Linked DNA regions of Homo sapiens: region 2 is linked to region 1. The links come from fine-mapping of genetic effects on plasma protein levels. A gene starts in region 1. The other region holds a variant in brackets. All regions are shown on one strand. Distances are from middle to middle.

Region 1 (12,122 bases):
ACGGGGTTCCTACCATTCCTAATGCCTGTCATTCAGCCCCCTTTGTTTTGGTGTCGTCCAGTAGGACAAGGGACACAGGAGGCTGCACCTTGCCTTTACTGTCTGTATAAGTAATAAACTGTCTGAATCTATCCAAGCTCATTGTCTGCTTACTGGCTGAGTCTGTCAGCCTGCTGGACATACCCCTAGAAAGCCTCTGTTCCCATCTGACCCCCATTCCCCACCTGCACAAATCAGAAGCTAAAAGAGTATTTACTAAAGCATGAGATGTGCAAAAATCACCCAAGATGACCTCAGGTGGCACTCACAGGTGTAGCATTAAGTGACTCCAAATCTCCTATCTACTTTCCAAACTTCTACAACCTTCTATCCAATATGGTAGCTACTGGCCACATCTCCTGTCTATCTACTTTCCAACTTTCTAGAACCTTCTATCCAATATGGTAGCTACTGGCCACATTGCCTTTCTAGCTACTTTCCAACCTTCTAGAACCTTCTATCCAATATGGAAGCTACTGGCCACATCTCCTTTCGATCTACTTTCCAAACTTCTAGAACTTTTATCCAGTATGGTAGCTACTGGCCACACCTCCTTTCTATTTACTTTCCTGCCTTCTAGAAACTTCTATCCAATATGGTAGCTACTGGCCACATCTTTCCAACTACTTTCCAAACTTCTAGAGCCTTCTATCCAATATGGTAGCTACTGGCCACATCTCCTTTCTACCTGCTTTCCAACCTTCTAGAACCTTCTATCTAATATGGTAGCCACTGGCCATATGTAGCTAATTAAATTTAAACTTAAATAAATTAAGATTAAACAAGATTCAGTTCTCTACTCATGCTGGCTACCTTTCAAATCCTCAATGGTCACATCTGGCCAGTGGCTCTGAAATGGATGGTGTAGATGTAGAACATCTCCATCATTGCAGACAGGTCCACTGAATGACACTGGTCTAGAAAGTCTTGGTGTGTTATTAGTGTGTCCTTAACACCTCTCTGTGTCTCACTAATCTCTCTCTCTCACTCTCTTTTTTGTTTTTTAATTTTTTTTTTTTTTACAAAAAATGATCAGGCCACATGCTTAGCAGCAAGACTATTTAGCTAAAAATTAATAGCATTAAAACATTATGTTTATTTTTACAGTTACCTTCTACTTTAGGCGGGTGATGTTGGCTTTCAATTTACGGCTGGGAGGGACATTTTTAGATCCAACACTGGATTCTAAGGATCTCCTGCAGAACTGCCTCATCCAGTGGGCAGGGTCTGTGTAAATGGCACCCTCCTACTGTTGGGCAGTGCGCAACCTGCATAATCTTACATGGCAGTCCTGCACACTCCTCAGTACTTCAGGAGGGCACAACAGTAAGAGCCTAGGGAGAGGGGACCTAGAATATCTAAAAGTCCTAGCACCCGTCTCTAGGTCCCTTCCTGTCCACCCTCTACCCCAACTCAGTGTCCCCCTAGACTCACGCTCCACTCAGCACTTTCAAAGATCGCACAGTCTCGAAGCCAAGCTCCAGCACGCTGGGGCACTCGGCCGTGAACTCGTGCCGCCGGCCCTGGAAGCCGTCCTCATCCCACACCACCATCTGTGCCAGGAAAAAAAAAAGGTGGAGATCCGCATCAGAGTCCCGTGAAGGGTGAGAGGTTGGGGGCTCGCCCCAGGATCTGGCAGGTAAAGCAGGGATTGCAAACTCAGATTCCTCCAGGAGCCAGGAAGGCAAGAGCAGTGATAAATGTGAGACACTAGACAGCACAGGTGCCAGGTAAATGGGTGGCCTCTTCCCAGTGCCACCAATGGTTGCCAAGTGGGAATGCAGGCCAGACCTTCCAATTTCTCAAGACAATCACTAGATCTGGACTTTTATGTGGTTCTTCCAGGCTTTTAAAGGCTGATGATAAATCCAAAAGCTTTATAAAACAAACAAACACACACAGAGATGGTCAAAGAAATCATGCCCAAAGACTGCAACCTCTGCCAAAGAGTGTAACAGGTCAACTTTGGGAACCAGAAGACCCAAATTCACATTCAACCTCCCTGTATGTGACATACAAGTCCCTTCTCAACTCTGAGCCTTGATTGCACCTCTGTGAAATAGGCATTTATAATGCCCCCCTCCTAGGATTCATGGGGACCTGAACCCTCCCCATACCCCCTGAACACCCCCTCCCCATGCCTCTTCCTACCTTCCAGGGTCCCGCTGACTTTGTGCATTGCAGGGTCATTGTGGCCCCTTCCTGCAGAAGAGAAGAACATTATAATCTTCCACCCTGACCCTCTGCTCTCCTCTTTATGCAGATGGCTGGCTTGGACCTGGTCAGGATCCACATAGGGAGTCCAGGAGTGACTGGGCTAGGGGCAATGCATGGCTTTGGCCTGTCCCTCTCCTGTCCTTTCCATCTGTCACCAATGCCATCTTCCATCCTATCCCCATCTCAAAACTCACCCTTGCTGGGTCTCATTGACTCTGAGCCCCACTCTGTATTCTCTTATCTGCTTGTTATGGGAAAATTTTTGTGGCTGCTGGTGGGTGGGTGCATCACCCCAGCGAGTGCTGAAATGCTCAGCATAAGAGAGCCCTTCCAAAGACAGCACCTAGCTCAAAGAGGTAGCTCTGATGGTGGAAATTTAGGCAATAGGGCTACAGGAATAATTTGTTTTTAAATGAGGGAAGCAGGTGCTGGTCTTGATGGTTGGGGCTCATCCTTGGTTAGGATGAGGATGGCATTCAGGATGACACAGTGACATCCCTAGGACTGGGGACCTGGGTTCCTCGCCTCCCAGAATGCTCACTCAGAACTCTGATCCCACCCCTCCTCCAAACCTGGGACTTACCGAGATAGGCCCAGGGAACATGTCAGATCTGAGACCAGCCGAGGTCGGGCTCTTATAGGCAGGGAGGGAAGAGGGGCCCCTGGGAGACAAAGCCCCGACTCAGCAACTGGGCCACAGAAACAAAAGCCAGCCCTGGCTGAAGAGCCAATGGCAAGCCGTCAGCAGCTCTGGCTTTAGCAGGGAGGGAAAGGACCAGATCACCACCCCCAGGGATCAGCCACGAAGAAGGAGAGAGGTGGAATATTGGCCCTCATCAGCCCCACAAGGTTCCTGACTAGAGCAGGAGAATGAGCACTAGATGAGGAGTCCAGAAGCATCCTTCCTAGCTATGTGAGCTCCAGCGAGTCATTTCCCCTCAATTTCTGCCTATAAAATGGGGCAGAAACAAACCATATCACAGAGTTGTTGTGAGGTTACATAACATGCCTGGTACAGAGTAAACATTCAGGAAATGCCTATTCCTTTCCTTCTCTCTTTCCCCTTTCTCTTCCAGTTGAAGCAATCCAGATAGGCTTGCCGTTAGAGGAGGCATTTGAACTAGACTCTGAAGGATGAGGAAGATATGTACAGAGTGAGATGGAAGGAGAGGCATTCTAAGAAAAAGTTCAGAGGTGGGAACTTGGGGCACATGTACAAGAAAGAGCTGGTAGCCCAATTGGCCTGGAGCTCAGGGGACCTGAAGGGAAGTGAGGCAGGAGAAGAGGGCTAGGCCAGGGCCTGCTGGGTCCACAAAGCCTGAAGATGAATCCGGATGGCACTGTGGGCAGCATAGAGGAGCTGTTAGTTGCAAACATGCTTTGCAAACTGTGGCACACTTGCCAAATATCCAGGACTTGTACAATTTGCTGTGTGCCTCTTGTCCCGAAACCCTGCCCTCTGAATTGGCGTATGAGGGACCTAAGAGGTCCCTCATACATACATACTTGTGTGTAAAATGGGTGTAACAAGCATAGGAAAACAGCATGACTGGAAACCAGATCATCTGAGATGAAATCCAGCCCTGCTTCTTTCTTACCATCCGTGTGACCTGGAGGACACCTGAGTCCTGCTCATGACCTGTAAAGTGGCCACACCAGTTTCCTTTTAAGAGGGTGAAATGCAGCTCTATCAAACGCATGACTTTAGGCTGGGCGCAATGGCTCACGCCTGTAATCTCAGCACTTTGGGAGGCCGAGGTGGGTGGATCACCTGAGGTCAGGAGTTCAAGACCAGGCTGGCCAACATGGTGAAACCCCGTCTCTACTAAAAACACAAAAATTAGCCGGGAGTAGCGCGGGCGCCTGTAATCCCAGCTACTAGGGAGGCTGAGGCAGGAGAATTGCTTGAACCTGGAGGCAGGGGTTTCAGTGAGCCAAGATCATGCCATTTCTCTTGACCCTGGGTGACAGAGCAAGACCCCGTCTCAAAAAAAAAAAAAAAAAAAAAAAAAAGGAATGCATGACTTTGATGAAGGGTTGGCATGAAAATGAAAGGTTAACAATGCACCCTCTACAGCCAGACTGCCTGGGTTTGCATCCCACTGGTGCTGGCTGGGTAACTTTTAAGCATGTTACTTACGCACTCTGAGCCTCAGTTTACTTGTGTGTAAAATGGGTGTAACAAGGTAAGTTGGGATTAGTCTAAGAAACAGGGGGATTGTGAGGATAAATGTGAATAGCACATGAACAGCAGCTGGAATTGCTCCTGCAACATAAAAAATATTGTGGTATTTCCATCATCTTCATCATCACCATTGCTAATAAGAAAGATGATTATTATTAATTGTTGATCAAAAAGCAGGGGTGCATAGTTTTTAAGAGCCTGGGTTCATGAGTAAAGAAGATGTGAGTTCCAATTTTATCTTACATTTCCATTTTTATGAGAAAGTGGCTGAGAGAGAGGAAGGAAAGGGAGTTGCTTCAGTTTCCTTATCCGTAATTGGGGTTAATCCCAGAGACTTCATCCTTATACTGAGGAGTACAGGACAATGCAAAAAAAAAAAAAGAAAAGAAAAAAAGAAAAGAAAATAAATTGGCTCCATAAGACAGGGCAAAAAAGAAAAAGATATAATGAAGGATACAATAATAATAATAAATGCTCAGAGTGGAGCCACCAACATGGTGGGCCATCCCCCTTCTCTGCCCCCACCCTCTGGCAGACAGCCCATTCCTGGGGCTTTAGGGGGGGCACGGAACTGCCCCAGATGACCTGGCTTTGAAGCCTAGACTGGTGGGTGGGCCCTCACCACAGGCGTCTTGGCCCCAGTTCCAGTGGCTACCCCATCTTGCAGTTCCTGCCCACACCCCACCCACCAAGTCTTGGCCCAGGATGAAAGGCCAAGGAGAGGCTAGGAAGCGAGGGGGTGCTGGGTGGTGGAGGGACAGAGGCAAAGCTGGCTCCAGGCCAGGGAGAGTTCAAGACAGAGCTGGGCTCCACGGGGAGCCTAGAACCCCGAAAAAGAAGAGACAGGAGCCTATCCAGATGCCCCCGCAATATACCCTGCCTGGGACTGGGGAGCCGACTGCAGGTGACCTAGCTGAGCAGCTCCCCAGGCTCCTTCTGACCCCAGCTGTACTGTGAGTTCCCGCCATGTGACTATGTTGAAGTCATTTGTTCCACCTGGGCCTCGGTTTCTCCATTTGTGAAATGGGAGGATTGGGCCCTGTGATTTCTGGCGTCTGTTCCTCCGTCCTGAGGCTTGATCACCCCAACTTGACCTCTGTCTCTCCGTCTCTCGCTCCTTCACTGTCCATGTCCCCTGTGCCTCTCTGTGTCTCTGTCTCCACCTCTCTCTTTGTCTGTTACTTCTATCTGCCTCCTTACTTCTCTCTCCTTGCCTTGGTTTCCCTATCTCCTCCGTACCCTACCTTCTGTTCCGATCCATTGGAACCACCATTGAGTCACCAGTTATTGACTGAGAACCCATGATGTGCCAAGCTCTACCTAGCCAGGCCCAGCTAGGTGCTGGGGCCAGTGGTGAACAAGATGTGGTGGGCATCTGGGGCTTGCCAGGGCAGGAGGCTCTGGGACAGGCAGTCATATTTCTGGCCACCAGCACTGTCCTCCAGGTCAGATAACGTGGCCTGGGTAGAGGCGGGGAACTGGGGTGGCGAGAGGGATCACTGTCGATAGGTCAGGAAAGGATGGGGCCCAATGTGGGGAAAAGAAAAAGACCCAGGTCTCCGATATCCAACCCAGCTGAGCACAGTGCGACTCTCCCATTCCCACCCCAACCTACAAAGAGGAAGTCAGGCCAGGGGGCCTCAGGCCAAGGTCAAGGCTGGACAGCAGGAGAAGAAAGCACACAGGCCCAGAGCTGGCTGGCCTGGGCTGGCTCTGACCTCTCTGTGCCTTCACTTTCCTCTTCTGTGAAATGGGCATAATGAAAGTACCAAATAAGGCAGATTGTCCCGGGGACTGACCGAGATAACACGGGTTCGGCACACAGTAAGCACTCCGTAAAAAAGGCTGTCCATATCAAACCCACATCTGCCTTTACAAAACGCTTCTGTGCTCATTGTCACCTTCTTTTCTATATGGCATCCAACAGGGACACGTGCCCACCTTATAATTGCAGACACAGAGGCCCCCCTAGGGGTAGAGACCTACCAAAAGCCACACAGCGCGCAGTGGCTGAGTCAGGATTCAAACTCTGGTCTCCTGCCTCCCAGGGTCTCCCCTTTTCCCTGCCCCATGTTGGCAGCCAGCAGGGACCCTTTTGGGGGCCCATCCCTGGCTGGGGTTGTTGAGAAAGGAGTCAGGGTAGGGTTGGAAGGTGAAGCTGCTGTGGCCAGGGTTTCTGCTGTGTGTGCTGGTCTCACAAAGGAAAGTGCTGCTGTCTGCAGTGATCCAGGCGAGGTCAGGGCCCCAGTCCCCCACTCCCTGCCCAGGCCTGCTGAGCCAGCTTCCCCTTTGTGCCACAGACTATAGGGCCTGATGTCTGCCAGACTATAAAATGGGGGGTCGGACTCTAGTCACCCATAGCACCTGCCCGCCTGCCTGTCCTCCAGCAGGAAGTAGCAAGTCCCCAGGTAAGAGGGAACCCACAGCCCAGCTGAGAGCTGAAGGGGAGGGGAAGAGAAAAGGGAGACAGAGAGAGGGAGGCAGAGATAGCAGTGCCATGAGAGTCAGAGAGCAGGGCCATGGAGATAAAGACGGAAGTGGAGAGAGGAAGAAAGGGAGGGAGAGGGAGAGGGGAGAGAGTGAGAAAAGACAGAAATAGAGAGAGAAGTAAATATAATTAAAAAGGACAGATAGAGAGATAAGCAAAGATACAATGAGGGAGAGATAGTGGGGGAGAGAGGAACAGAGAGGGAGAGAAACAGACAGGCAGATAGGCAGAAAGAGGGAGAGAAGTAAGAAACAGATAGAGAGGCAAAGACAGGGAAGAGAGGAGGAACAGAGGGAGAGGGTGAAGCAGGGAGAGAGAGAGAATGAGAATATCTCCAGGAAGGCATGAGTCCAGCTGCCAGCCCTGGGGGAGTGTTTAAAGCCACAGATGTGGTCCAGATGTCTGGCCTCACCCCTGGTGAACAGGGGGCACCCCAGAATATGCACAGCCTTCCTGGAGGAGGCTGGGGGAGGGATGTGCTTATCCCAACTAGCTCCGCCTTACAGAATGTGTTCGGGAATCAGCTTGACCAGAGGGTCTTAATCTGTGCTAGCAGGGGGTCCTCAAATCCCTTAACATTGTCTCCAAAGTTAAAGAGAGCATTATTTTTGTCCGGGGACAAAGTTGAGGTATTCATCAAACATTCAAAGGAGTCCACGACCCCAAAGCAACAAGGAACCACTGGAATTGACCAAAGCCCTCTCCACCCAAAGCCTACCCAGCCCCAGTCCTCATTTTCAGAACCCTCCACATGCAGTAAATACATCCTCTTGGGTCCTCCCATAAGCCTCAGTCCCCGGCCTGTATTTGCACCCATACACCAACCCCTCAGAGGAAGCAGACGGGGAAAGGAGCTGGGAGCATGCATTCATTCATTCTCTGAACAAATGTTAATTGGGCATCTCCTATGTGCCAGGTGCAGAGCAAGTGTTAGGGATGGACGGTGAATAAATCAGATTAAGCAAATGGCAGAATACTTTAAAAGCCCAGTTGCTGGCTCCATTTCCTTGAGTTGAAATCAGAGCCCTACCACTTAGTAGCTGTTTGGGCCTGAGCTGGGCCCCTTCCTTCTCCAGCCCCCTGCTGCTCAGAGGGGATCATGATAGCAGCTACTCCATCGGGTGAGGTTCATGGTCAGATGGGTTAATTAATGTATGTCACAGTGCCTGGCACACCTTAAGTACTCCCAAATGGGACTTCTTGTTATTAGTCTAGGGAGGCAAATTGGAGTTGCACAAGCAAATCAGTGTGATAAGCAGTGTGGAAAATTGCAGGGGGCTAAGGAAGGACCTAGCGGGGTAATGGAGGGTGGAACAGCTAGTGGAGGGAACCGCATGGTCAAAAGCCTGGAGGAAGGATATATGTGGGATGAGTGGCCCCCAGACGGGAAGGTCTTGGCTGGGAAGTAGGGATGAAAGAAAAACTTCCAGGCTTAACCGTTTCAGAAGGAGATAGAGAGGAAACGAGCTCCAAGGAGGCTGAAAGCACAGGATGTGGGGCTATGAGGGCAGGAGGCAGTTTGGGGGTGTCATCCCTGAAGGCCAGAGTTTCTTTACAGACTTTTGCAGGCGGGAACCATGTCTCAGGCTGCAAAGGCCTCGGCCTCGGCCACAGTGGCGGTGAACCCAGGGCCTGACACCAAGGGGAAGGGGGCCCCACCTGCAGGAACATCCCCTAGTCCCGGCACTACCCTGGCCCCAACAACCGTGCCTATTACCAGCGCCAAGGCGGCGGAACTGCCTCCTGGGAACTACAGGGTAAGGACCTGGGGGTGCAGTGGCTGGGTGCCATGCCTTCTTTCCTTCCTTCCCTCCTCCTCCTTCTTCTCCTCCTCCTCTTCCTCTTTCACCTCTTACTCCTCCGCACCTCTTTCTCCTCCTTTTTCTTGGCTTATTTTCTCTCCTTTCTATTTACTCTCCCTTTTCTTCTTCTCCACCTCCCCAGACTCTTATCCTCTGTCCCTATTCTCTTTTTCCCTCACCTTGGCCTCCTCCTCCCTCCTCCTTCTGGGACACAAGTGTGGCCCAGCCAATCTGGGAGCCCATAAAATAGCCAGGGGTTCTGACACACTTGGAGAAAGTGGGGCCGGGCGCAGTGGCTCATGCCTGTAATCCCAGCACTTTGGGAGGCCGAGGCAGGTGGATCACCTGAGGTCAGGAGTTCGAGACCAGCCTGGCCAACATGGTGAAACCCTGTCTCTACTAAAAATACAAAAATTAGCCAGGCGTAGTGGTGGGCGCCTGTAATCCCAGCTACTTGGGAGGCTGAGGCAGGAGAATCACTTGAACCCAGGAGGCGGAGGTTGCAGTGAGCTGAGATCATGCCACTGCACTCCAGCCTGGGCAACAGAGGGAGACTCCATCAAAAAAAAAAAGAAAAGAATAGAAAGAAAAAGGGGACCTATAGTTGAGTTGTGCAATAACAACAACCAAACCATACCGCTTCACAGCTGAAGGGACACCTGGCAATCAGGCTACACCTGCACACGCACATGCTTAGAGTTTATCGAAAGCAAGAAAAAAAAAGAAGAAAAGGAAGTGGGCTGGCTTAGCAGCAGGGAACCAGCTGTCCTTGGAGGCTCACTGGGGCAGCAGGATGGCCTCAGACCCTCAAAATTGCTCGAGGTGGTCTGGGCTGAAAGGCATCCTGTGGAGCAAGGTGTCCAGTCCCCTGGGATTTGGTTTGGTGTGGTTTCAACCTCAGGTCACAGAAGTAGGCCATTTTGCAACCCCTAGTTCATGACACGCTCTCATGTGGTCAGTGCGTGGCAGGTTTTTATTTATGTACCTATTTAATCATTAGTTTTATTTAATTTCTAATAATGCAATATGCACCTACAAACCCACCACCCATATAAAAGCCAGGACTTGGTTAAAAACTTTCTACCTAACTCTAAGGTGTCTCCCTTGAGTCCATCATTTTCCTCCCCAACTCCAGGAAATACTGTCCTATCCTCAACCTGTGTCTGTAATCTGCTTGCTTGCTTTTGTATACAATTTTATGCATTATTCCTTTAAAAATGTATACACACATACACATGTATATTTATTTACTTGTTTTATTTATTCATTTATTTTGAGACCGAATTATGAGACGGGTTTTGCCATATTATCCAGGCTGGTCTCGAACTCCTAGCCTCCGCCTCCCCAAGTGCTGGAATTATAGGTGTGAGCCACCGCAACTGGCCGATTTACTTGTTTTTAATTTATTGAAATATGCAATGTGATTATTCTGGGCTTTTCTTTGTACTTTTCACTTACTATGAGATCCCTAATATCCATCCATATTGTTGCGCATGACTGCCGGCCATTCATTCTGGCTGCTGCCTGATATTTCAGAGCGTGACCATCTCTTTCCTGCTAAGCACGATTTCAGTGGTTGCTAGCTTTGCTCTCGTGAACAGCATGGCTTGGACGTTCTTATCCCTGTCTCCTGGTATCGGGGAACCTGCCCCGATATTCACATAGATTCTTTTCTATTTTTCCTAAGCGTCGGCCAGCTTGAGAAATAAAGGGACAGAGTACAAAAGAGAAAAATTGTAAAGCTGGGCGTCCGGGGGAGACATCACATGTCAGTAGGTTCCGTGATGCCCCACAAGCTGCAAAAACCAGCAAGTTTTTATTAGGGAGTTTCAAAAGGGGAGGGAGTGTGAGAATAGGTGTGGGTCACAGACATCAAGTACTTTACAAGGTAATAGAATATCACAGGGCAAGTGGAGGCAGGGAGAGATCACAGGATCACAGGACCGGGGCAAAATTAAAATTGCTAATGAAGTTTTGGGCACCATTGTCATTGATAACATCTTATCAGGAGACAGGGTTTTGAGATCAACCGGTCTGGCCAAAATTTATTAGGCAGGAATTTCCTCTTCCTAATAAGCCTGGGAGAGCTATGGGAGACTGGAGTCTATCTCATCTCTGCAGCGTCGACCATAAGAGACGACCACGCCCAGGGGGGCCAGTTTAGAGACCTAACCCCAGGTGCGCATTCTCTTTCTCAGGGATGTTCCATGCTGAGAAAAAGAATTCAGCGATATTTCTCCCATTTGCTTTTGAAAGAAGAGAAATATGGCTCTGTTCTGCCCGGCTCACTGGCGGTCAGAGTTTAAGGTTATCTCTCTTATTCCCTGAACAATTGCTGTTATCCTGTTCTTTTTTAAGGTGCCCACATTTCATATTGCTCAAACACACATGCTGTACAATTTGTGCAGTTAATGCAATTATCACACGGTCCTGAGGCGACATACATCCTCCTCAGCTGACAGGATTAAGAGATTAAAGTAAAGACAGGCATAGGAAAGCACAAGGGTATTGATTGGGGAAGTGATAAGTGTCCATGAAATCTTTACAATTTATGTTTACAGATTGCAGTAAAGACAGGCATAAGAAATTACAAAAGTATTAATTTGGGGAACTAATAAATGTCCATGAAATCTTCACAATCCACGTTCTTCTGCCATGGCTTCAGCCAGTTCCTCCGTTTGGGGTCCCTGACTTCCCGCAACATCCCGGGGCACACATACAGGAGTTTCTCTTGGGCAACCAAAGGTAGAAGTGGAAGTGCTGGGTCATGGTTATATGAACCTCCCCTCCTCTTACAGCTGGGGAAACTGAGGCTCAAAGAAGGCAGAAAATTGTGCCTTGGTCCATGTGAATGGCAACGTTGTCCCAACTTGGAACAGCAAGTGGACAAGGAACCAAACATGAGGCTTAGTGAGGAGAGAAGATTAGCTCAAGTTTTCCCCTATGTTGTGGAGGGTTGGATTTGCAAGTGTCTCCTGAGCATCAGCTCTGTGGCAGGTACTGGGGCTGGGGCTGGAGATACAGAAATTGATCAACCTCAGGCCCTGCCCTGGAGGAGTCCTTGGTCTTTGGAGGGGCTGGGTAATGGGAGAGAGGGAGTGCAGAGAGAGAGGGAGACCCCAAAGCAAAACAGCAGTGACTGTGTGGTGGGTTAGTTGTGCTGCTAATGGGGAGAGGACAGTGGGGGATGCTCAACCAAGGCCGATGGAGGAAGGGGCAATCAGAGAAGGCTTCCTGGAGAAGGTGGCACCTGAGCCTAAAACAGAATAACGAGCTGGAATGCGTATTAGGGAACTTCAGTTAGGCAGTGGGAGCTCCAAGCTGGATATGTGTGGTGGAGAAGGCATTCCAGGCAGGAGGAATAGCACAAAGAAAGGCCTGAAAGGGAGGT
Region 2 (14,733 bases), 15 kb before region 1:
TCCCACCTCAGCCTCCTGAGTAGCTGCGACTACAGGCATGTGCCACCATGCCCGATTAAGTTTTGTATTTTTAGTAGAAACATTTTCTCCATGTTGGCCAGGCTGACCTCAAATAATGGCACCTGATCTCAGGTGATCTGCCCGCTTCAGCCTCCCAAAGTGCTAGGATTACAGGCATGAGCCACCGCGCCCAGCTCACATTTATTGATTTGTCTATGTTGACCCACCCTCGCGTCCCAGGGATAAATCCCACTTGATCATGATGAATGATCCTTTTAATGTGCTGTTGAATTTGGTTTGCTAGTATTTGGTACCTATTCTTATCAGAGATATTGGCCTGTAATTATCTTTCCTTGTGTCCTGGTCTGGCTTTGCATTCAGGATAATGCTGTAAAATATGCTTGGAAGTATTCCTTCTTCTTTATTTTGGAAGAGTTTGGGAAGGATAAGTATTGGTTTTTCTTTAAATGTTTGATGGAATTTCACCGTGAAGCCATGTGGTCCTGGTCTTTTCTTTAGTGGGAGATTTTTTTTTTTCGGGCAAAGGACTTAAATAGACACTTCTCAAAAGAAGCCATACAAATGGTCAACATATATATGAAAACATGCTCGGCATTATGAATCATCAGGAAAATGCAAACTAAAGCCACCATGGGATATCTCCTCCCACCTGTTAGAATGGCCAGTATCAAAAAGACAAAAGAGAAGTGAGGGCCAGGATGTAGGAAAACGGAACCCTTATGTGCTGTTGGTGGGAATGTAAATTAGTGCAGCCGTTATGGAGAACAGGATGGAGGTTCCTCAGAAAACTAAAAATAGAATTGCCATATGATCCAGCAATCCCACTGCTGGATATCTATCCAAAGGAATTGAAGTCAGTATGCTGACGAGATGCCTGCACCCCCATGTTCATTGCAGCACTATTCACAATAGCCAAGACAGGAATCAATCTACAGTCCATTCATCTGTCCATCAACAGATGAATGGATTTTTTAAATGTGGTGTCTATATGCACAATGGCTAAAAAAGGAGGTTATTGGGAAGCCAAGGTGGGCAGGTCACCTGAGGTCAGGAGTTCAAGACCAGCCTGCCCAATGTAACAAAGCCCTGTCTCTACTAAAAATACAAAAATTAGCCAGGCGTGGTGGCAAGTGTCTGTAATCCCAGCTACGCGGGAGGCTGAGGCAGGAGAATCGCTTGAACCCAGGTGGTGGCGGTTGCAGTGAGCCGGGATCAAGCCACTGCACTCCAGCCTGGGCAACAGAGAGAGAGTCCATCTCAAAAAAAAAAAGGAAGAAAGAAAAAGGAGGTTAATCCTGCCATTGGTGACAGCATGGATAAACCTGGAGGACATTATGCTAAGTGAAATAAGGCAGGCACAGAAGACAAATACCGTATGATCTCACTCATATGTGGAATCTAAAGAAGTTGAACTCATCAAAGTAGAGAGTGGAACGGTGGTTACCAGAAGCTGGAGGAGGGGGTGGAGGGGGAAAGGGGAGAAAGGGGAGACATCGATCAGAGGGTGCAAAGTTTCAGTTAAACAGGAGAAATAAACTCTAGTGATCTGTTGCACAGCATGGTGACTATAATAAATACTAGTGCATTGTATATTTCAAAATTGCTAAGCGTAGATTTTAAATGTGTTCATCACAAAAAAATAAGTATGTGAGGTGATGAATTTGTTAATTAGCCCAGTTTAATCATTCCACATTGTAAACACATATCAAAACATCACATTGTACCCTATGTATGTATATAATTGTTATATGTCAATTAAAAATACAATTTTTTGGCCAGGTGCGGTGGCTCACGCCTGTAATCCCAGCACTTTGGGGGGCCGAGGCGGGCGGATCACCTGAGGTCTGAAGTTCAAGACCAGCCTGACCAACATGGTGAAACCTCATCTCTACTAAAAATACAAAATTAGTTGGGTGTGGTGGCACATGCCTGTAATGCTAGCTACTCGGGAGGCTGAGGCAGGAGAATCGTTTGAACCCGGGAGGCAGAGGTTGCAGTGACTTATGATTGATCACGCCATTGCACTCCAGCCCGGGCAACAAGAGCAAAACTAAGTTTAAAAAAAAAAAAATACAATTTTTAAAATAAATCTTTTTTTTTTTTTAAAGAAAGAAAGAGAGGCGGGCACGGTGGCTCAAGCCTGTAATCCCAGCACTTTTGGAAGCCAGAATGGGCAGATCACTTGAGCCCGAGAGTTTGAGATCAGCCTGGGAAATATAGTGAGACCTATCTCTACAAAAAGAGTTTAAAAATTACCCAGGCATGGCCCAGCTACTCAGGGGGCTGAGGTGGGAGGATCACTTGAGCCGAGGAGGTAGAGGCTGCAGTGAGCTGTGATTGCTCCTGCACTCCAGTCTTTGTGACAGAGCAAGACCCAGTCTCAAAAAAGAAAAAAAGAGAAGGCTCACATTGTGGATTATTTTCAAAGCATTTTTCCAGGTATCAACTCCTCGAACCCTCATAACAGCCTTCCTCTTTAAGAGGCGAGGAAACTGAGGCTCAGTGGGGCAAAGCAGCTCACTGAAGATCACCTTACCTGGTAAACACAGGATCCAGGATTCACACCCAGGTGTGTGCAACACCCGGTGTCTTTTCTTCTGTGCTGTATCACCTACTCACAGGTGTGAGCACCTAGGGAACAGGCTGCAAGGAGCAACATGGATAGTGCCTACTGTGTGGTCTTGAACAAGTCCCCTTCCCTCTCTGGGCAAAGAGGTTGCTGGTTTGGGATCCACAGCCCTGGACCCTGTGTTCAGTCCTGTCGGCTGTGTGCATTGTTCCAGGTGATGGGTGTTCCATGCCTACCACTCACTTCTGACCAAATAGCATCAATAATTTAAGCTCTCTTTCTTTCATAACCTAAGAAAATTGGTCCCCTGGCAAGACATGAAAAATAATTTCATGCTCTGTTATCTCCCCTCTCAAGATCGCCCCTGACAAATTGTCTCTTTATTGTCTGTTGCTCTAGCATCAGCTCACATTTGGGCTCCCATTTTTTATGGTTGCCAGCCTTACTCCTGGCTCTAACTGGGGTGGCTCCTAAAATGATCACCACCAAATTTCAATTTCCTTCCTTCCTTCCTTCTTTCCCTCCTTCCTCTCTCTCTCCCTCCCTTCCTTTCCTCCCTCATTCCTTCCTCCCTTTTTCCCTCCCTCCTTCCTCCACTCCTTCCTTCCTTCCTTCCTGCAGCAAGTATGGCCCGCTTTGCCCAAGGACCTGAGGCTTTCCTATAAGAAACTCTATAGTTGTTAATACTAAAGTGTGAAGGGCTTTTTTTTTTTTTTCTCCTGAGATGGAGCCTTGCTCTGTCACCCAGGCTGGAGTGTAGTGGCACCATCTCGGCTCACTGTAACCTCTGCCTCCCAGGTTCAAGCGATTCTCCTGCCTTAGCCTCCCGAGGAGCTGGGATTACAGGTACACACCACCACACCTGGCTAATTTTCGTATTTTTAGTAGAGTCGGGGTTTCACCATGTTGATCAGGCTGATCTCAAACTCCTGACCTCGTGTTCCGCCTGCCTCGGCCTCCCAAAGTGCTGGGATTACAGGCACGAGCCACCACACCCAGCCCCTTGTTTAACTCTTTAAAGGGAGGACATGAACCCAGCAACTTATTGTTTATACATTTTATTTGTGCCCATTATCTCTTTCATCCACCCCCCAAAACCTTGCACAACCTACGGTGGGCTCAATGGTCCTGCAGGCTGGGTGGTCTCAGGCAAGTTGCTTGAACTCTCAGAGCCTCTGAGCCTCACGTCTCTGCTTTAAATAGACAATAATTGCATAAAGAAGTTACTGTGAGGTTTTTTTGTTTTTTTGTTTTTTGGTTTTTTTTGAGATGGAGTCTCGCTCTGTCCCCCAGGCTGGAGTGCAGTGGTGCAATCTCGGCTCATTGCAAGCTCCACCTCCAGGCTTCATGCCATTCTCCTGCCTCAGCCTCCCGAGTAGCTGGGACTACAGGTGCCCGCCACCACACCCGGCTAATTTTTTTGTATTTTTAGTAGAGACGGGGTTTCACCGTGTTAGCCAGGATGGTCTCGATCTCCTGACCTCGTGATCCACCCGCGTCGGCCTCCCAAAGTGCTGGGATTACAGGCGTGAGCCACCAGGCCCGGCCCTGTGAGGTTTAAATTATATCACATGTGAAAGGGATAAACACAATATGTATCATCGATATTATTATCATCATTATTCTGAGAAAGGTATGCTTGGGTAAAGGGTTTTGGGTGGAGATAAGGGAGGAGGTCAAAGCAAAGGGACCGAGAAATGTATAATAATACTAATAACAATATTAAGAATGATACTAACAATTTCCATCAACCTTTACTGAGAGCTTACCAAGTTCTTTGTGTGTACCCTGGGCACAGGCATATATATAATATATCATTTAACTTTTTGCAAGCAAGGAGATGAGAATTTCTCCATTAAAAGATGAGGAAACTGGGGTTACATGCTGGTAAACCCAGGATGCAAACCCAAACCCATGATGGCCTCTTCTGGAGGCTGGTGCCAACTCAGTCTTCCTGTCAAAGTCAAACAGTGGCCTCTCTGTGGTAGGTGCAGCAGAGCCCTCTACATCCAGTGCCTTCTAGGGCCTCAGGGGCTCTGAGTGAGGAAACTTCTAGCTGGAAGATGGTAGCCAGGCCCAGCCCTCATTCTGGGCCTCAGAGTCCACAGAGATTGACTTCATGGGCCTCTCTAAATTGTCCTCACCCCTATGTCTTCCTAATCCCATTTCCCTAGGACTGACCATGGAACCCCTTCCTGGACAGTACCCCTGCCCCTACAGCAACACTTACAACTTCCACAGTCCATTTCATAAAGCTCGTTTGGAAACTAATTCATACTAGGCTGTGAGTGGCTATCCTAGCTAACTCTAGCATTTCCTACCTTATGTTCCACAGGCCACTCATAATGCAAGGTGCTCCACAGAAGGGAAAGAACAAGTTCATAATTGTTCTGTGGTCAAATAAATTTGGAAAACTCTGAATATTCTATTCTCCCTTCCAGAGATTCACAATACATGTTAAACTATTGTAGGCACTGAGAAGTCCTGCAGTGTGGACACCAACAATACCCAAAACTAAAGCACATGATTTTTTTTTTCAAAGAACAATGTTACAACATCTGTGTAACAGTCTGAAAAATCCTGACTGAGCAGCCATGGAGGTATAGGGGAAATATCTGTATCCCTGGACAATTATATAAATTCCCCAAGGCAAGGGATTTTATCTTTGTTCCCTGTTAGATCCTGGAACCTGTAACAGTGTTTGGTACATAGCAGACATTTGATACATGTTTAATGAATGAATGAACGAATGAATGAACAAGTCTGTGTCTGAATCCTGGCTTTGCCTTTAACTTGCTGTATGGCCTTGATCAAGTCCCCACACTTCCCTGGGTTTCCATTTCCCTACGTGTTAAAAAGGGATGAAGGCCAGGTGTGGTGGCTCATGCCTGTAATCCTAACAATTTGGGAGGGTGAAGCAGGCGGATTGCTTGAGCCAAGGTGTGCGAGACCAGCCTGGGCAACATGGCAAAACCCAGTCTCTGCAAAAAACAAAAAACCTGGGCATGGTGTCATAGGCCTATAGTTTAGTCCCAGCTGCTTGGGAGGCTGAGGTGGGAGGACTGCTGGAGCCCGGGAGGCAGAGGTTGCAGTGAGCCGAGATTGTGCCACTGCACTCCAGCCTGGGTGACAGAGTGAGATGCTGTCTCTCACACACACACACACACACACACACACGATGAGATAAAATTATGCATTCTCAATATTGTTAAGAATGTTGTTGAAGCCCCAACCCCCAGTACTTCAGTAGGACCCCCAAGAGGTGAAAATTGATCTTGGGAAGCAAAAAAACCATCTTACTCTTTATGTATAAAACACAGATATATATACAGAGTTTGTACAGACGTATATTACATACTTTATATTTGTGATATTAAAACTTCATGGGGTGGGGTCAGGTGTGGTGGCTCACACCTGTAATCCCAGCACTTTGGGAAGCCAGGGTGGGAAGATCACTTGAGCCCAGGAGTTCAAGACCAGCCTGGGCAAAATGATGAGACCCCATCTCTAAAAACAAAACTTCATGGGGGGAGGTGTAGGAAAATAACATCTAAAAAGACTCTCTAGGGGGATGACAAGGAAAGACAAAATGTTGGGAAATGCTAGACTTGATGATCTAGAAGCGTCCTTGTTCTAGATCCAGATCTAGAAGGTCTGACAGTCTATGAATCTGGCTCTACGGGAGAGTGTTGATGGGAAATAGCAGAGGGAAGAGTGTTCTAGGAAGAGGGAACAGCACAAGCTGAAAACCTCAGATGGGAATGAGCCTGGGTTATGGGCTGGACTGTGTGCCCCTCTAGCAGCTGAAATAGCTCAGATGGGAGAGTGTTTGACCGAACTATGTCCCCCTAAAATTCATATGTTGAAGTCCCAAACCCCCAGTACCTCGGAATGTGACTGTATTTGAAGGTAAAGTGTTGAAAGAGGTGATGAAGTTTAAATGAGACCATTAGGGCGGGGCCCTAATCCAACAGGACTGGTGTCCTGTTGGAGGAAGAGGCAGCTGGGATGCATGTGCATAGCGACAAGACCATGTGAAGATTCAGGAAGAGGCTGGGCAAGGTGGCTCACAACTGTAATCCCAGCACTTTGGGAGGCGAAGGCAGGCAGATCACCTGAAGTCAGGAGTTCAAGATCAGCCTGGCCAACATGGCAAAACCCTGTCTCTACTAAAAACACAAAAATTAGCCAGGCATGGTGGCACACGCCTGTAATTCTAGCTACTCGAGAGGCTGAAGCAGGAGAAACTCTTGAACCTGGGAGGCGGAGACTGCAGCGAGCCAAGATCTCACCACTGCACTCCAGCCTGGGCAACAGAGTGAGACTCTGTCTTAATAATAATAATAATAATAATAATAATAACAATAATAATAATAAAAGAAGATGCAGGGAGAAAGGGGCCATCTACTAGCCATGGAGAGAGGTCTCAGGAAAAACCAGCCTTGCCGACACCTCTATCTTGGGATCCAGTCTCAAGAACTATGAGAAATATTTCTGTGGTTTAAGTCACCCAGGCTGTGGTATTGTGTTATAGCAACTGGAGCAGACTCATACACTTGCCCTCTTCTTCTTCTTCTTTGTTTTTTTAAATACAGAGACAGGGTCTTGCTATGTTGCCCAGGCTGGTCTCAAACTCCTGGGCTCAAGTGATTCTCCCACCTCAGCCTCCCAAAGTGCTGGGATTACAAGCATGAGCCACGGCACCTGACTTTTTGTTGTTGTTGTTCTTTCGGGGTGCTTTTTTTTTTTTTTTTTTTTTGATACAGTGTCTCTCCTCGCCCAGGCTGGAATGCAGTGGCACGATCACGGCTCACTTCAGCCTCAACCTCCCAGGCTTAAGTGATCCTCCCACCTCAGCCTCCCAAGTAGCTAGGGCCACAGGTGCACGCCACCAGACCTGGCTAACTTTTTAAAATTTTTTATGTAGAGATGGGATCTCAGTATGTTGCCCAGGCTGGTCTTGAACTCCTGGGCTCAAAGGATCCTACCACCTTGGCCTCCCAAAATGTTGGGATTACAGATGTTAGCCACCTGGCATCTTTAAAGAACAACCAATACAGGGACATGAGATCAAAATAGGTTGTGGGGAGAGTGGGGAGATGCAGATGATGACAAGCTTCACAGGACTGGGAATAATACTGGGTTTTTTTATTGTTGTTTTCTTGGCATGGTGGGGAGCATGGGAGGATTTTAAGCAGGAGTGTGACAAGATCTGCCTTACGTTTCTAGCAGGACCACTCTGAATGCTGGGCAGAGAGCAGATCACTCATGGGCAAAGACAAAAGCAGAGGGACTATGAGAAGGAGAGAGAAGAGGGTGGCTGGGACCAGAATGGCAGCAGTGGGCATGATGAGTGGGTTGGATTCTAATACATATTAAGAGTAGAGCTAGTGGCTGGGTGCCGTGGCTCATGCCTATAATCTCAGCACTTTGGGAGGCCGAGGCAGGCAAATCACTTGAGGTCAGGAGTTCGAGACCAGCCTGGTCAACATGGTGAAACCCTGTCTCTACAAAAAACGCAAAAATTAGCTGGGTGTGATGCACATGCCTGTAATCCTAGCTACTTGGGGGGCTGAGGCAGGAGAATCACTTGAA[C/T]CTGGGAGGCAGAGGTTGCAGTGAGCTGAGATCGCGCCACTGCACTCCAGCCTGGGGACAAAGCAAGATGCCATCTAAAAAAAAAAAAAAAGAGTAGAGCTAGTAGGAATTGCCAATGGATTAGAATGTGAGGTGTGAGAGAAAGAGAAGGGTTATGGATCATTCCAGACATTTAGCCTGAACAACTTGAAAAGTGTAGCTTCAGTTATGTTTGGTCCGGTTTTGTTTGAGATGTGTATTAGACGTTCACATCAAGGTGTCAAGCAGTGGTCAGATGTTCTGGGACGGTCTGAGTAGAGGTAGGCACAAGAAGGGTCCGCCCCCCAACCCCATGCTTCCCGCCCCCACAGCCCCTATCATAGAATATTTGCAAACAGCTCTGTACTTTTCCGCATTCATTCCCCATTAAACTGAGTGAGAGAAAAAACTTTAGGTGTCATGTTTACCATTGTATGTCCCAGGCAAATGATCTGTTGAATAAATGGTACGATACAATGAGGAGTTAAAATTTACTGAGGCGCAAATGTTCCTAAACATTCCCCTCCCCTTCCTGAGCCAGATAATGTTATCTTTTCCAGCAGAATGTTCTGGTCCCCACCCCTTCCTGTCCCTATCAGACTGATCAGGGACATTTGTGGGCAGAGGAAGATGGGCCAAGAGAGCCTGAAACAAGAGCTAGAGGGCTCATGAGAGAGGTTTAGACAACCTATAAAATGCAGAACCAGGAGAAAGTAAGGAGGGGAGGAGAAAAAGAGAGATAGAAGAGACCAATCCTGCCACTTAGTCTTCAAGTGAAACAGGGGTTTCTTTGTTTTATAGGCTTTCTTTGGAGCATGGAGGGTGTTAAATGAGAAACTCCAGGGTAGTGTGTGTGAGAGAGAGAATTGGGAAGAGAGAAAAAAGGTATGAGAAGTGTCAGGCCTCTGAGCCCAAGCCATCGCATCCCCTGTGACTTGCACGTATACATCCAGATGGCCTGAAGTAACTGAAGATCCACAAAAGAAGTAAAAACAGCCTTAACTGATGACATTCCACCATTGTGATTTGTTCCTGCCCCACCCTAACTGATCAATGTACTTTGTAATCTCCCCCACCCTTAAGAAGGTACTTTGTAGTCTCCCCCACCCTTAAGAAGGTTCTTTGTAATTCTCCCCACCCTTGAGAAAGTACTTTGTGAGATCCACCCCTGCCCACCAGAGAACAACCCCCTTTGACTGTAATTTTCCATTACCTTCCCAAATCCTATAAAATGGCCCCACCCCTATCTCCCTTCGCTGACTCTCTTTTTGGACTCAGCCCGCCTGCACCCAGGTGAAATAAACAGCCATATTGCTCACACAAAGCCTGTTTGGTGGTCTCTTCACACGGACGCGCGTGAAAAGAAGTTTTGCTAGGGGAGAGAACTGACTCTCCATGCGTGGCTTTGAAAACCACAAGCTAGGAACAATTTATCAAGAAGACATAGCAATCATAAATATATGTACACCTAACAACAGAGCATCACAATTCCTGAAGGAAAAAAAAAATCAGGAAGCAAAAATAGACAAAACTAAGGTAAGAAACAGATAAATCCAAATAATCAATGATTCTTTCTATGTAATTCACTAAAATTGATTTTTTAAAAACAAGCTGCGGTGAACTATGATTGTGCCATTATACTCCTGCCTGGGTGACAGAATGAGATCCTGTCTCAAAAAAAAAAAAAAAAATCAGCAAGGGTATAGAAAAATCGCATCAACACTGTTAACAAATTTGATCTGACATTTACAGAACACTGTACCCAATAACTGCAGAATATAAATAGTTTTCAAGTGTACTACCAAGCCTTTCAAAGATAGACCATGTGGCCAGGAGCAGTGGCTCAGGCCTGTAATCCTGGCACTTTGGTAGGCTGAGGCAGGCAGATGTCCTGAGCTCAGGAGTTCAAGACAAGCTTGGGCAACATGGCGAACGCTGTCACTACCAAATACAAAAATTACCAGGTGTGGTGGCACACACCTGTAATCTCAGCTGCTTGTGGGGCTAAGGCAGAATTGCTTGAACCTGGGAGGTCGAGGCTGCAGTGAGACAAGATTGCACCACTGCACTCCAGCCTGGGTGACGAGTGAAACCTTGACTCATTAAAAACAAAACAAACAAACAAACAAAAAATAAAATTAAAATACAAAAACCATGTGCTGGGCCATAAAATAAGTCTTAATTCATTGCAGAAGACTTAAATCTTAAGGAATATGTTCTCCGACCACATTGGTCTTTAAAAACACACCAATAACAATAAACACCTAGAAAATCCTAAAGTATTTGGAATTTAAATAACATCCCTTTAAATAGCCCATAGGTCAAAAGAAAAAAAAAAAACCACAAGTGAAACTAGAAAATATCAAACTGAATGACAATGAAAACACATCAAATTAATATTTGTGGGAAGCAGCTAAAGCCATACTTGGAGGGAAATTTATAGCTAAATGACCGTACTGGGTGGGGGAAAGAGAGGCCTAAAATTAATGACCCAGAAGTCTGCCTTAAAAAAAAGCTAGAAAAACTAAGAACAAAGTAGGCCTGAAGTAAATAGAAGAAAGGAAATACTGAAGTTAAGAGTAAAAATCAGTGGAATAATGATAGAGAAAACAAGGCTAAAAACCGGTTCTTTGAAAAGATTAATAAAATTGAAAAGCACAACTAATACCAGACTTTCTCTTTTTTATTCGTTTGAGTTTTTTGTGCTGACTGTGCACGGACCAGTTCACATGGGTGCTGGGTTCACACAGGTTACAGGGGGAGGCAGAAGGAGAGAACACACCACAGCCTCCAGAGCGCCTCCATTGCAGATAAGCACGCATGCGCTCCTCCGTGCCGCACCCCTGTTCACTGCTGGATCCTGCGGATGCTCTGCACCTGGAAGGTCGGGGCATGAGAGCCCCACTCCCGGAAATGTTTGTAGTCACCGGAATGGTGATCGCATTCCAGCACATACTGAAATCCTCGGTAGCCCGGAAACTGGGAGCAAACCCAGCTGGAAAAGAGAAAAGGCAGACAGTTACTCTACAGAGACACCAGCATGGTGATCAACACAGGGGCAAAGGGATCTATGCACACGCACACAATTCCAGCCATCCTGGCCTTTCTTCAGTGCTCACAATGTGCCATGCTCTCTCCCCTACCACAGGGCCTTTGATCATGCCATTCCCTTTGCCAGAAGCACCATCCCAGCCTTTCTTTTCCTAGACAAGTTGTATTTGTCCTTCATGGCTCATCTTAATTATGAGGGCAATCTGACTCGTTCCCCAAATCAGGCCACAGTCCCTTATTATACCTTTGTAGCACTCATGTAATTCGATAGTTTTCAAATTATTTGTAAAATATCAGCCTCCCCTGCCAGCAGGCAAGCTCCTGAGTGTAGGAACGTGTATGTTTTGTTCATCGTTATCACCACCTGCATAAATATATAAAAGTCTAGCAAGGAAGAAGGGGTTCCTAAATATTTGCTGAATAAGTGAACAAGTGAAGGAATGGGAAGTCTTGTTCTTTCCCCTTTCTCCCTCCTTCCTTATCCAGAGGCACTTCCAAGAAAAAAAGCTATCATTTCAATTCATTGATTTTTTTTTTTTTTTTTTTTTTGAGACAGAGTCTCACTCTGTTGCCCAGACTGGAGTGCCGTGGCATGACCTCGGCTCACTGCAACCTCTGCCTCCTGGGTTCAAGTAATTCTGCCTCATCCGAGTGGCTGGGACTAGAGGCATAGCCACGACACCCAGCTAATTTTTTGTATTTTTAGTAGAGACGGGCTTTCACCATGTTGGCCAGGCTGGTCTCGAACTCCTGACCTCAGGTGATCCGCCCACCTCAGCCTCCCAAAGGGCTGGGATTACAGGCGTGAGCCACCGTGTCTGGCCCAACTCATTGATTTCTACTCTGTTCAGGACAAGGATTGGTGTCTGGTTTTCCAAGCCTCCATTTCCCTTTCTGTAAAAGAGGAAGTGAACTCAAGAATCACAAGGGGTCCCTCTTACTCTAAAACAACATGATTCTTTGGTGGTTCCTGAGAAAACTAAAGCCAAAAAAAGAAAAAAAAAAAAGATGAAAAACCCTACCTCCCATCTTTGCCCCCTGCCTACCAGGAGCCAAGGGGCACCTCAGAAAGTGGTTCTGATGTCCTCCCTAAATAAGAATCTCACACCTTAGCCTTCACCTGCCACCTCCTGGGTGGAAAGGAAAGGGCCAGTCAGTGCTGAGTTTGAAGCTGGATTGTTACCTACCTGCTGATGGACTTTGAGCAGGTTGCTGGAGCCACACCTGTGTTTTATGGCTAGGGGCATTCATTCTCCCCTCTTCTAGCCAAAGAGCCTGTGGCCTCTCACTCTCAGCCAAGGTGAGAAAATGAGGCTGAATCTAGCAATGGACCACATGACCAAACCTAGCCAATCAGAACACCCCATTCCTATGGGCATGATGATTGGTTCAGAGTTGAGCACAGGACCCAGCTGGACCAATGAGCACCTTTCTTGGAACCTTTAATAGAATCACTGAGCCTGGACACTGTCTTTCCCTAGGGCTGGATGTAACGATGAAGCCGCCACCTTTGCCTTCACACAGGAAGAGCTTGTCTAAGAATATAGTCACACAGAGGCAGGCAGGGCAACAGGTTGGGGGTTGTGGGGGGAGAGAGATACCTGCTGTAGTACCTGGATCCAGCTATGCTTGAAGCTAATTACAGGGGCTGATAAATATCTTCTGGGCTCAAACCAGTTTGATCTGGGTTTCAGTCCCTCAAATTCTGCCTGATACCTCCCTGTGCCTCAGTGTTCTCCTCTGGAATGTGGGCATCAGAGCACAAAAGTCCCCAGCACACAGTTTTCACAGGAGGTACACCTACCCCTCCCAGTAGCCCCTCCCCTGCCAGGTAGAGCCTTGAATACACTTACGCCCCAGAGTGGACGTGGAAGGACCCTACTTCATTGCCTTCCCATCCCATGGCCTGGAGGGAAGGATAGTCATCGCTCAGCTCTCCTTTCTTGCCCAGGAAGTTCTCTTGCTCGAAGATTGTCAGCCTCGAGTCACGGTGGTTCTACAGGAACAGGGAACACAGTCAGACCAGCAGGCTCCCAGTTGGAAACCCAGGAGCCTCTCCTGGCCTCCACACTCCCTGCCCTTGTCTCCCAAATCAGCCTTCCTTGCAAACCTTTTGGAAGGGCAATAAGGCAACAGGTACCAGAAACCTTGCCATTTGCCCTTCCAGAAATTTCCACAAAGAAAATAATCATGGAATAAATAGGCTGCAAGAATGTTCATCATAACAGTTTTTTCAAAAACAAACAAACAAAAAAAGGAGTCAACTTTTATGTCCAAAATTGGGGATCCAGTGGTAAGCTGAGGCATTACACTGTGGTTAAGAAAAAGGGTGTAGAGGCCCGGCGCGGTGGCTCACGCCTATAATCCCAGCATTTTGGGAGGCCGAGGAGGGTGGATCACCTGAGGTCAGGAGTTCAAGACCAGCCCGACGAACATGGTGAAACCCTGTCTCTACTAAATACAAAAAATTAGCCAAGCGTGGTGGCACATGCCTGTAATCTCAGCTACTTGGGAGACTGAGGCAGGAGAATCGCTTGAACCTGGGAGGCAGAGGTTGCAGTGAGCCGAGATTGTGGCATTGCACTCCAGCCTGGACAACAAAAGCAAAAACTCCATCAAAAGAAAGAAAGAAAGAAAGAGAGAGAGAGAAGGAAGGAAGGAAGGAGAGAGAGAGAAAGAGAAAGAAAGAAAGAGAAAAAGAAAGAAAAAGAAAGACAGAGAATGAAAGAAGGAAAGAAAGAAAGAAAAGGAAAGAAAGAGAAAGAAAGAAAGAAAGAAAGAAAGAAAGAAAGAAAAGGAAAGAAAGAGAAAGAAAGAAAGAAAGAAAAAGAAAGAAGGAAAGAAAGAAAGAAAGAAAAAGAAAGAAAGAAAGAAAGAAAGAAAGAAAGAAAGAAAGAAAGAAAGAAAGAAAGAAAGAAAGAAAGGAGGGAGGGAGGGAGGGAGGGAGGGGAAAGGAAAAGAAAAGAAAAGAAAAAAGAAGGAAAGAAAGGAGGTGTAGAGATATCATCTCAAATCCTTCCTGCTAGGAGGCAGCTGCCACTTACCAACTGACTGAGGTTAGACAGGATTTCTGAGCCTCTGTTCCTGTATCTATAAAATGAAACTAACCCTACCCATTTTTCAGGGTTCTTTTGAGGACTAAATGAAATCAGGAGTTGCAAACTGCTGGGAATGAGGGATTGTTTCTGTTGCAGCCCGCCACGGGTCCCTATATTAGCACAATATCTAGACTGTTTGCAGAATAAATGAACAAATGGACTTATTCACAAAACAGAATACTAGGGAGCTATGAAAAACGATGGAAGTGAGATTTAATCACCTGGACTGATGATTGCGACACATTTGCTCAGTGAGAAAAGCTAGTTTCCAAGCCTTAGATTCATTATGATTCCAATTTTATGACAAAATTATGTGTGCAATATAGATAAGATATATAGATTATACAGATATAGATGTAGATGTTGATTTGGATGTGTATA

Which allele goes with the higher level. Positions count from the first base shown, and alleles are read on the strand shown. Strength reflects both the effect of a copy and how common the allele is.
For the plasma level of the protein whose gene starts at base 6,799 in region 1, allele T in region 2 goes with a lower level than allele C (weak association).

Evidence for each region. A credible set is the group of variants that fine-mapping cannot tell apart. PIP is the posterior inclusion probability: the model's chance that the variant is causal. Protein levels are from antibody-based Olink assays in UK Biobank. Linkage for the fine-mapping came from a reference panel and not from the study's own genotypes, which makes the PIPs less certain.
Region 2: its variant is the best candidate, but not a certain one, in a credible set for the plasma level of the CRYBB1 protein (UK Biobank, PIP 0.73).

Annotation. Positions count from the first base shown.
Region 1 is chr22:26,612,704-26,624,825 of GRCh38, reverse strand. CRYBB1 (crystallin beta B1) reads left to right here and starts at 6,799. Exons shown (of 6, transcript NM_001887.4): 1 at 6,799-6,849; 2 at 8,488-8,686. The coding sequence starts at 8,507. It overlaps CRYBA4 (crystallin beta A4), which reads right to left and starts at 2,863. Exons shown (of 6, transcript NM_001886.3): 1 at 2,840-2,863; 2 at 2,191-2,241; 3 at 1,474-1,592. The coding sequence starts at 2,229. RefSeq lists enhancers at 5,714-6,389, 7,068-7,745, 10,456-11,134.
Region 2 is chr22:26,626,805-26,641,537 of GRCh38, reverse strand. It overlaps CRYBA4 (crystallin beta A4), which reads right to left. Exons shown (of 6, transcript NM_001886.3): 5 at 13,108-13,250; 6 at 10,869-11,198. The coding sequence ends at 11,051. Among named protein-coding and RNA genes, the nearest start is that of CRYBA4, 12 kb to the right of the region's middle. RefSeq lists a cis regulatory region at 8,312-9,062. The variant C/T (reference allele first, on the strand shown) is at 8,186.